Homo sapiens: one gene and its partners. The protein of the gene in region 1 purifies or fractionates together with the protein of each later gene. This does not show direct contact. Each region holds a gene or a part of one and is shown in the gene's direction. Other genes may lie near its edges.

The links.
Region 2: the proteins of ACADM (region 1) and SCML2 fractionate together in Homo sapiens (co-fractionation; one large-scale study listed by BioGRID). This does not show direct contact.
Region 3: the proteins of ACADM (region 1) and ACAA2 fractionate together in Homo sapiens (co-fractionation; one large-scale study listed by BioGRID). This does not show direct contact.

Annotation. Positions count from the first base shown.
Region 1 is NC_000001.11:75,734,709-75,738,363, forward strand, and holds part of ACADM (medium-chain specific acyl-CoA dehydrogenase, mitochondrial isoform a precursor), read left to right. Parts: intron 1-82; coding exon 83-163; intron 164-3,655. UniProt on the Homo sapiens protein: Medium-chain specific acyl-CoA dehydrogenase is one of the acyl-CoA dehydrogenases that catalyze the first step of mitochondrial fatty acid beta-oxidation, an aerobic process breaking down fatty acids into acetyl-CoA and allowing the production of energy from fats.
Region 2 is NC_000023.11:18,348,037-18,351,691, reverse strand, and holds part of SCML2 (sex comb on midleg-like protein 2), read left to right. Parts: intron 1-3,655. UniProt on the Homo sapiens protein: Putative Polycomb group (PcG) protein. PcG proteins act by forming multiprotein complexes, which are required to maintain the transcriptionally repressive state of homeotic genes throughout development.
Region 3 is NC_000018.10:49,799,956-49,803,610, reverse strand, and holds part of ACAA2 (3-ketoacyl-CoA thiolase, mitochondrial), read left to right. Parts: intron 1-757; coding exon 758-924; intron 925-3,655. UniProt on the Homo sapiens protein: In the production of energy from fats, this is one of the enzymes that catalyzes the last step of the mitochondrial beta-oxidation pathway, an aerobic process breaking down fatty acids into acetyl-CoA.

The DNA of each region.
Region 1 (3,655 bases):
TTTCATTTTGAATTATAGCATCTCTGAATTTACATATCCAATAAAAATGACTTGATTTTTTAATGTCAATTTTCTTCGGTAGCAAATGCCTATTATTATTGCTGGAAATGATCAACAAAAGAAGAAGTATTTGGGGAGAATGACTGAGGAGCCATTGATGTGTGTGAGTATGTGTAACTGCCGCTTTATTTCACACTTAAGAAGGGAACAAAGGTGCTATTTCTCCTTTTCAGTCTATATGTATATATTGGGATATTTAGCATTGAAACAAAACTTAGCAACATATTATTACAATGATGTGTCAAGGATGCCAAGAAAGTATCATAATAGGCCGAGGGCAATGGCTCGCACCTGTAATCCCAGCACTTTGGGAGGCGGAGGCGGGCAGATTACTTGAGGTTAGGAGTTCACAGCCTGGCTAACGTGGTGAAACCCCATCTCTACTGAAAATACAAAAATTAACCAGGCGTGATGGCGCCTGCCTATAATCCCAGCTGCTCAGGAGGCTGAGGCATAAGAATCGCTTGAACCCGAAAAGTGGAAGATGCAGTGAGCAGAGATCACACCACTGCACTGCTACCTGGGCGACAGAGTGAGTGAGACCCTGTCTCAAAAAAAAAAAAAAAAAAAAGGTGTCATCATAATTTTGTTGCTTATTTCCAGGAGAAGAGAGATCTACTTGTGATGTTTTTGGGATGTCAAAAAGTGTCATAATAATCCTCTTACTTCAGGAGAGAGAGCTCTATTTAGTGGAGCATTCTACACTTTAAGAACTGAGTCATTGTGTCAGGAAGTTCAGATTGAATGTAGGGCAATGTGTGTTTGAACTAGTAGTGTTTTGAATTAGTAAAAAATTAATGTTGGCTGGTCGTGGTGGCTCACGCCTGTAATCCCAGCACTTTGAGAGTCTGAGGCAGGTGGATCACCTGAGGTTAGGAGTTCGAGACCAGCCTAGCCAAAATGGAGAAACCCCATCTCTACTAAAAATACAAAAATTAGCTGGATGTGGTGGCGCTTGCCAGCTACTTGGGAGGCTGAGGCATGAGAATCTCTTGAACCTGGGAGGCAGAGGTTGCTGAGTAAAGATGGCGGCACTGCACTCCAGCCTGGGCAACAGAGTGAGACTCTGTCTCAAAAAAAAAAAAAAGCAATTAATGTGGGCTGGGCATAGTGGCTCACACCTGTAATGTCAGCACTTTGAGAGGCTAAGGCAGGAGAACTGCTTGAGCCCGGGAGTTCAAGACCAGCCTGGGTAACACAGTGAGACCCTGTCTCTAAATAAATAAATAAATGAATAAATAAATAAAAATTAATGTGAACCTGTAACTGAAGAAATAGCAACTTATTTGTTGAATGACTGAATGACTTGGGAAGAATAGTTGTAGAGTTTATTTAAACCTCTGAAAGCAACTCAACAAATTTTTAAATTAGATTTTTTTAACAAGATAAATACACACACAGACATACACACACACACACACACACACACACACACACGCTCTATTCTGAAACTGTTGTTTACCTAAGGATTTTTACTTCTTGTTTACTCAAACATATTTCAATCTAAGGTGTGGTTGTTATACTGAAATACAGTAGATGTATTAGTTTTGAGCTAATGATGAGAATTCATCTTAAAGAACAGAAAATAATATTTGAAAATAAATGTTTTTTATTTCAGATACCTAAAATTTCAAGCAAACTGTTTAATAAAGGAATTTGTACATATTTGCTAGGAAATTTGCAATTTTTTTTAACAATTGAGAGGTTAGCTAAACATTCTCACTATTGTCTATAAGAACTGTGTGAAACGTCTAGATTGTTCTCCTGTAGCATATACAGTCAGCTCTCCATATCCATGAGGGAATAGTTTAGGACAGGTTGCCCTCCATATCAAAATTTTTGGTTGCCAAGTCTGTTATACAAAATGTACAGTTAGCCCTTTGTATCTGTGGGTTTTGCTCCACAGTTGGTTAAATTCCAAAATTCGTGGATGCCAAAGGCAAACTTTTAAAAAATTAAAATTTTATAACTTTTCTAATTATAAAATACTGAGTATAGAAAATTTAGAAATGTTTTAAGTAGAACAAAAATATCTGTAATCCCTCAGATATGGAGTTAATTAGTATTACTTCCTTATTGTAGTGCCTACCACATTTTTAAATATGTAATTGTGTTTTTAACAGTTAGCCCCCATTATATACATGTAGTTTTATGTACATCTTTATTTAACAACATGAACATTTTCTTATGCCTTCCTTCTTTTTACATGCTGTAACAATACTGCATAATTTGCTATCTAATGGATATGCTATAAATTGTTTCACTTTTCTGTACTGTTGAATGTTTAAACTCCTTGGGTTTTTACTTTGGAAAATAATGTTATGGTAAAAAATAATACAGAAAAAAAATAAATAAAAATGATCAAATAAGAAGCCAAGAACAGGCCAGGCATGGTGGCTCATGCCTGTAATCTTAACACTTTGGGAAGCCAAGGCAGGAGGATCGCTTGAGGCCAGGAGTTCAAGACCAGCCTGGACAACGTTGAGAGACTGCCACCACACACACACACAAATATATATATATATATATATATATATATATATATATATATATATATATGAAACCAAAAAGAAGAAAAGAAGACAAAAACAACTCTGAGGAACCAGTAGTGACAAGCCATTTTGTATAGAAAAAAACAGGCTCATTTACTTCACAGGCTCTAAAAACTTCACTGTATTATGAAACAGACAGATGTCTAATAGCATATTTCAGGGAAAAAAATACCTTAAAGGTGGTTAAAACAAAATTTTGGTACTTAAAAGGGGCATCTTTTATGGACAACTCCTTAATTTGTCATGATGCTGAATACATCAAATCTCCAGGTAGCAGAGTAATCTAGTTCAGTTAACTTGAGTGACACCTGAATCCCCTCTACAGAATCCCTGTCAAAAGACCATCTGGCTGACATGTTTTTATACCTCAGGTGCCTGGGAATCAACACCTTCTGAAACAGCATCATTTGCGAGCATCTGTTATCATTAGAAAAATATTTTGGATTACATAATGCTTAAGCACAGAACCTGTCATTTTTTTTTTTATAATTTTACCAGTTCATACTGTAATAGGTGTTCAATAAATGTTAGAGTGATTTCACTGTACTTTTCTTTGGCTATATTGCCCTTCAGATGTTTGAGTATAGTTATATTTATTTATTTATTTATTTTTTGAGACGGAGTCTCGCTCTGTTGCCCAGGTCGGAGTGCAGTGGTGTGATCTTGGCCCACTGCAACCTCTGCCTCCCAGGTTCAAGCGATTCTCCTGCCTCAGCCTCCCAAGCAGCTGGGACTACAGGTGCGTGCCACCACGCCTGCCTAATTTTTTGTATGTTTAGTAGAGACAAGATTTCACTGTGTTAGCCAGGATGGTCTCTATCTCCTGACCTCATGATCTGCCCACCTTGGCCTCCCAATGTGCTGGAATTACAGGTGTGAGCCACCATGCCCAGCCAAGTATTGTTATTATTTTTTTTTTCTGAAATGGAGTCTCGCTCTGTTGCCTAGGCTGGAGTGCAGTGGCACCATCTCGGCTCACTGCAACCTCCACCTCCCAGGTTCAAGCAATTCTTCCTCAGCCTCCCAAGTAGCTGGGATTACAG
Region 2 (3,655 bases), on another chromosome or scaffold:
GTCTTTTTTTTTTTTTTGCCTGGTTATTCTGTCTGCCATTTTTCTCCCTCTATTCTCATTCCACTTGTGAATGGAAATCGGAGGTCCTCTCTATTAGCTACCCTCTCGGGGTGGGGAGGGTAGGTCTCACTGTCTCCTCATAGTCATATTCCTGATTTTTAGGATATACAAGAACAAAGTGGGCTCTGCCAGCTATCAGCCTTAGAGCTATGAGCTGTGGTGCAAAGATTAGTCTGTCATTGCCAGAAGGTGTTTTGTAGTTTGCAGTGGGCAAATCAAGCATCCCTAATAATTTTAGAACCATTATTAATGTCTGAGAATTACTACATAATACCTTAGAATTTGAACTGATTGTTGATTCCAGGAACTAAAAACCTGGACATTTTGAAAATGGCAAATGTTGGTGATGTTTTTTTTTTTTTGAGATGGGCTCTCGCTGTGTTGCCCAGGCTGTAGTGCAGTGGCGTGATCTCAGCCCACTGCAGCTTCTGCTTCCTGCGTTCAAGCAATTTTCCCACCTCAGCCTCCTGAGTAGTTAGGATTACAGGGGTGTGCCACCATGCCCAGCTAATTTTTGCATTTTTAGTAGAGACGGGGTTTCACCTAGTTGGCCAGGCTGGTCTCAAAACTCCTGACCTCAGGTGATCCTCCTGCCTTGGCCTCCCAAAGTGCTGGGATTACAGGTGTGAGCCACCACGCCCGGCCGTGTTGGTAATTTTGAAGGAAGAGTTTATACCCTTCCCTGGCTTTGGGGCTTAATATTCAGGATCTCTTTGTCTTGGGGAAATAGATAAAAGAAACCACTGGCGTTTATCTTAGATTAAAATGGCATAATTTATACCATTATATAAATACTGGTATAATTTAGTGGTAAGTACATTTTTTAGACTCTAAGTACCTTAGGCTTTGGTTACCATTTATAAAAAGAGTTTGTGGTAGTTCTTTTTTTGATACGGAGTCTTGCTCTGTTACCCAGGCTGGAGTGCAGGTGCAATCTCGGCTCATTGCAACCTCTGCCTCCTGGCTTCAAGCAATTCTCCTGCCTCAGCCTTCCCAGTTGCTGGGACTACAGGCATGTACCGCCACACCCAGCTAATTTTTTTTTTTTTTTTTTCCGAGATGGAGTCTCGTTTTGTCACCCAGGCTGGAGTAGAGTGGCACGATCTCAGCTCACTGCAACCTCTGCCTCCCAGGTTCAAGTGATTCTCCTGCCTCAGCCTCCCAAGTAGCTGGGACTACAGGCGTGCGCCACCGAGCCTGGCTAATTTTTGTATTTTTAGTAGAGATGGGGTTTTACCATGTTGGCCAGGCTGGTCTCAAACTCCTGACCTCAGGTAATCCATCCACTTCTGCTGCCTCTCCAAGTGCTGGGATTACAGGCATGAGCCACCGAATCTGGCCTTTGTTTTTTTTGAGAGTCTTGCTCTGTCTGTTGCCCAGGCTGGAGTGCGGTGGTGTGATCTTGGCTCACTACAGCCTCTGCCTCCTGGGTTCAAGCAATTCTTGTGCCTCAGCCCCTGAGTAGCTGGGATTACAGGCGTGCATCACCATGCCCACTAATTTTTGTATTTTTCATAATTTTTGTATTTTTAGTAGAGATGGGGTTTCACCATGTTGGCCAGGCTGTTCTCGAATTCCTGGCCTCAAGTGATCCTCCTGCCTTGGCTTCCTGAAGTTCTGGGATTACAGGCGTGAGCCACCTCGCCCTGCCAATGGTGGTTCTTAAAAATAACTTGAAAAAATTTTAGAAGCTATCAAGATTTGAAATGTGTATGTGTTCTTTGGTTTTCATGAGAAAGGCGATTTTGTTTATTTTGTCATTATGTTGTCTATTTCTAGGGTTACCTTGGCAACCTTAGAAATAATACTGGGTTTTTTTTTGTTTGTTTTTTTTTGAGACGGAGTCTCGCTCTGTTGCCCAGGCTGTAGTGCAGTGGCACAATCCTGGCTCACTGCAACCCCCACCTCCGAGGTTCAAGTGATTCTCTTGCCTCAGCCTCCTGGGGAGCTGGGATTACAGGCGTGCGCAACCATGCCCAGCTAATTTTTTAAAAAATAATTTTAGTAGGGACGGGGTTTCACCATGTTGTTCAGGCTGGTCTCAAACTTCTAACCTCAAGTGATCCACCTGCCTTGGCCTCCCAAAGTGCTGGGATTACAGGCGTGAGCCACCACGCCCAGCCTGGAGAGGTGTTAACATAAGCAATGGAGATATCTTATTGTGTGAAAAGTGAAATATTTGAGGATCCTGTAGCAGTGAATATGATGGTGCTGTTCATCTTAATATCATGATCATTTGACCTAGACTACATGAATTCCTTATTTGAAGAGTTAAAACTTATAGAATAAGCTGTGAGTAAAGACCTGGGAAACTGAAGATAGCATTTGATTACCTACTACTTGTGACCTGTGTTTATGGCTATGGCTCTGCCTCTTCCTAAGTTTATAGGAGCAAATTGTTTTAAGAGGGGAAAGAGAGTGCCCACTTTTAGTGGTAACGTACTGTTGTAAACTTCAGAAGGGACAGATATATTACAATTCTAGGGCATACCTTGAAGATGCTTTCATTTCTCAGAGAAAAGTTTGCGGGGCTCTCTTTGGTTGTGTTTAGAATACACATTTGATTTTTCGCAACCTCTGTTTCTCATAAAGATTAACTGGTGGCGAATTATAGACAAACAGCTCCATTTGTTTGGTATGTACCTTATAGCCTTGACATAGTTTTTTAAGTGTATTGACAAAGTGCTTGTTTTTTTTGGTTAACATTTGGCCACTTTTCCTACCTTTCATCAGTTTTAGCTGGTTTAAGGTTTGATTATATATTTATTTTTAAATGCTGAATCAAATGTGTTTCTTCTTTTCAGTTCTCTTCCTCTTTGAATACATTTGGAAACATGTGCCCTTTGCTATGAACTGTTGCTTTTTTTTCTTTGGAAATATTTTTTAAAATGTTATTTGGAGTATTTTTCTCTTTAATGTTATTTGAAAAGCAATATAGTCAGTATTAATTTTTAACTAACTTGATAGAGTTTCATAAATCTGTTCAAATGAAACACGGCATCTTTGGTCATTAAAAGAATTAATATATAGTAGGCAATAGTAAGTATATTTAGATATTGTTTGGTTTTAGATTACTTTAGAGACTCTGATTTGAGATTTTTTTTGTGTTGAAATTTGAGAAGTTGTAGAAATATTTGAATGGGTAATTTGCTGACACCTGCCTCATGTTTGAGGTATTTTCAAGGATGTTTAGTTTTCTGGTTTCTTCAGATTGTGGTTTATTGCATGCTTTTCTGCAGTCTGTTGTCTAGTGGGGATTGTTGTTGTCATCATTTCCATTATTTCTTGTAGGGCCGGTGTTAGAAACCATAAATCTAGACTGCAGTGATAATAGGAACAGCCTGTAACCAGATCCAGTTCTTTTGTCAAAAAGTTGCACCATTAGCTGCCTGTAGTATATTGACATGCCCTGCCATTAACTCAAGTCCTTCACAAAAGTCAGTGGGTAGCAGGTCTTTGGGCAGTTAGCCTGTAGCTGTGCTTTAAAACCTCAGGAATTTACAACTATAAACTGGGATTTTGGCAACCCTTGACTTATCTTTCGTTTATCTGTTTTCTGACATGACATACTTCTTCACTAAATACATAGCTTTCA
Region 3 (3,655 bases), on another chromosome or scaffold:
GAATGGCTTTACATCACAGTGTAGCAGGACGAGCCACAGTCAAAACTCCTCAGACACTGGATTAAAGAAGGAAGAGGCTTTATTTGGCTTGGAGCATCCACCAACTTGCGTCTTAAGAGCCGAGCTCCCTCAAAAAGAAATTCTTGGCCCTTTTAAGGGCTTACAACTCTAAGGGGTCCACCTGAAAGGATGGTGATAGATCAAGCAAGTGTGGGGAACGTGACTGGGGGCTACATGCATTAGCTTACAGAGCAGAAAGTTTTGCAATGCTTTTTCATACAATGTCTGGAAATTACAGATAACACAAGTAGTTTAGGTCAGGGATTGATATTATTATTATTATTATTATTATTATTATTATTATTATTATTTTAACTACCAGGGCCGGGTGGTGGCACCAGGCCATCTGGCTATTTATCTTACTTCTGTTTCTTTTTAACTTTTTGCTTTTTTCTTTTCCTCCTGTTTTATAAACTAGGCAAGGGGGGCGGGGTGCGCAGGAGAAGTGGTGGTCTTCTTCCTTAACAGCATGCAGTGCAGTTCTTGGTACCTGCATGTAGGTAAAGATCAAACTGTCAAACTGGTAGTCCTTAAGACTCTGCTTCCATGGGTATGACTTGTTCTAGGTATTATTGCCTAACAGAAATTTCCATTATCTAATTTTAAATTGTGTAAGGTTTCACAGTGAGATTATTCGAAGCATTTAGAGGTATTTACTAACCTGTGATGGCTTACAAATCTCTTCTTGTTGCAATAGGTGTGTTTGTAGTTGCTGCTAAGCGAACGCCCTTTGGAGCTTACGGAGGCCTTCTGAAAGACTTCACTGCTACTGACTTGTCTGAATTTGCTGCCAAGGCTGCCTTGTCTGCTGGCAAAGTCTCACCTGAAACAGTTGACAGTGTGATTATGGGCAATGTCCTGCAGGTTAGTAGAGTAAAGGAAGGTGTTCACTCCTATTGCTTCTTTGATCAGTTTCTAAAAATAATTCCTTTAACATATCATAATGGTAAACAAGTTAATAATAGTTATAGACTTTTTTTTTTTTTTTTTGAGATGGAGTCTCGCTCTGCCGCCAGGCTGGAGTATGGTGGTGCGATCTTGGCTCGCTGCAACTTCCGCCTCCCGGGTTCAAGCAATTCTCCTGCCTCAGCCTCCCGAGTAGCTGGGATTACAGGCGTGTGCCACCAAGCCCAGCTAATTTTTGTGTTTTTAATAGAGACAGGGTTTTACCACATTGGCCAGGATGGTCTCGATCTCTTGACCTCGTGATTCTCCTGTCTCGGCCCCCCAAAGTGCTGGGATGACAGGCGTGAGCCACCACTCCCAGCCAATAGTTACAGACTTTATACGTTTGTAATTTGAGTAATTCTGTGACTCCAGAATCAACAGCATGCATAATTCAAAGCATCATATGTTCTAGAAACTGTATGTCTGACTTGGGATGCATTTCAGTGCTTCCTAAATAGCAGATTGACTTCCTTGGCTTACTTGAAGTTAATTGATCTTCTCTATATGCCACCTTAGTAAACCCAAGCCATTACAGCACACCTCCCCTAATTTTCTTACACATTGTAGGAGCTTGATCAGTGTTTGTTGTAAGAAATAAGATGCTTCCTTACCCTCTGTCTTGCTATGTGTGATGTACAAAATCAATCATTCATATGCAGGTAATTGAAAATTCAGAATTCCTTTAAAGTATACAAACATTTGTTGGATACCTAGTTAGAGGCTATTATAGGTGCTATGGCACCCAAGGTGGACCAAAAGGAGGTAATAATCTAATGAAAAAGATAAGATATATATATATATATATATATATATATATGATCAGTTTCTGTGATATATCTTATGTATCATATATACACACACAAATATATATATGATACATATATTTAAAGATGTCAATGATGTGATCATTGCTAAAGGAAAGAGAATGACAATGGACACAGAAGTCACTAGGCCTTGCATTTGAACTTGATGCTGTTCATCTTGCCGTTGTGTATCTTCACATCCAGAAAAAGCAGTGACTTTTTTCCTTTGGCAGTTATGTCTGTTGAACCTAAAATATTTTCATAAAGAATTCTCAATATTGTCTTTTGTTCTTTTTATTTTATTTTGTAACTTTTACCTCTGACCTAAGAAGGCATTAGAACAGATTGAATAGAAATTGGATACTTCCGTTTTTTGCGTTTTCTAGAATTTTGAAGGAAAAATATTTTTTTCCCAGCATGTATTCTCTCAAACTTTATAACACAAAGTCACTATAAATAGTATCAGTTTCATTGTGTTTGTGCCTCTGTTCCTAAAGACAGTTTTTCTTGTGTTAAGTTTTCTGTCAGGCCAAGATAGAGTTTTCTTGTAAGGATGTTAAGTGCTTAACATAAATATTTGGGGTTAGGCCTTTATGGTTAAGAGAGAACAGAATATGCTTCGAATAACATTTGACAAATACCACAAAGCTGCTTTTCTAATTGAGTTTTATATTATTAAATATCACTTGGAATAAATGAGTTTTACTTATTTCATAGGAAACAATGAAATCCAATGTGGATTCTTTTTATTTCTTTTTCTTCCCTAATTGCCCTGGCTAGAATCTCCAATGTTGAATAGAAGTTATAAGAAATGGATATCTTTGTCTTATTCCTGATTATAGGGGGAAAGCATCTGGCCTTTCAACTTTACATATGATGATAGCTGTGGATTTTTTTTTTTTTTTTTTTATTGATCATTCTTGGGTGTTTCTCGCAGAGGGGGATTTGGCCCACAGGACAATAGTGGAGGGAAGGTCAGCAGACAAACAAGTGAACAAAGGTCTCTGGTTTTCCTAGGCAGAGGACCCTGCGGCCTTCTGCAGTGTTTGTGTCCCTGGGTACTTGAGATTAGGGAGTGGTGATGACTCTTAACAAGCATGCTGCCTTTCAAGCATCTGTTTAACAAAGCACATCTTGCACCGCCCTTAATCCATTTAACCTTGAGTGGACACAGCACATGTTTCAGAGAGCACGGGGTTGGGGGTAAGGTCACAGATCAACAGGATCCCAAGGCAGAAGAATTTTTCTTAGTACAAAACAAAATGAAAAGTCTCCCATGTCTACTTCTTTCCACACAGACACGGCAACCATCCGATTTCTCAATCCCTTCCCCACCTTTCCCCCCTTTCTACTCCACAAAACCGCCACGGTCATCATGGCCCGTTCTCCATGAGCTGCTGGGCACACCTCCCAGACGGGGTGGTGGCCGGGCAGAGGGGCTCCTCACTTCCCAGTAGGGGCAGCCGGGCAGAGGCGCCCCTCACCTCCCGGACGGGGCGGCTGGCCGGGCGGGGGGCTGACCCCCCCACCTCCCTCCCTCCCGGACGGGGCGGCTGGCCGGGCGGGGGGCTGACCCCCCCACCTCCCGGACGGGGCGGCTGGCCGGGCGGGGGGCTGACCCCCCACCTCCCTCCCAGACGGGGTGGCTGGCCGGCCGGGGGCTGACCCCCACCTCCCTCCCGGACGGGGCGGCTGGCCTGGTGGGGGCTGACCCCCACCTCCCTCCCGGATGGCGTGGTTGCCGGGCGGAGACGCTCCTCACTTCCCAGACAGGGTGGCTGCCAGGCGGAGGGGCTCCTCACTTCTCAGATGGGGTGGCTGCCGGGCGGAGGGGCTCCTCACTT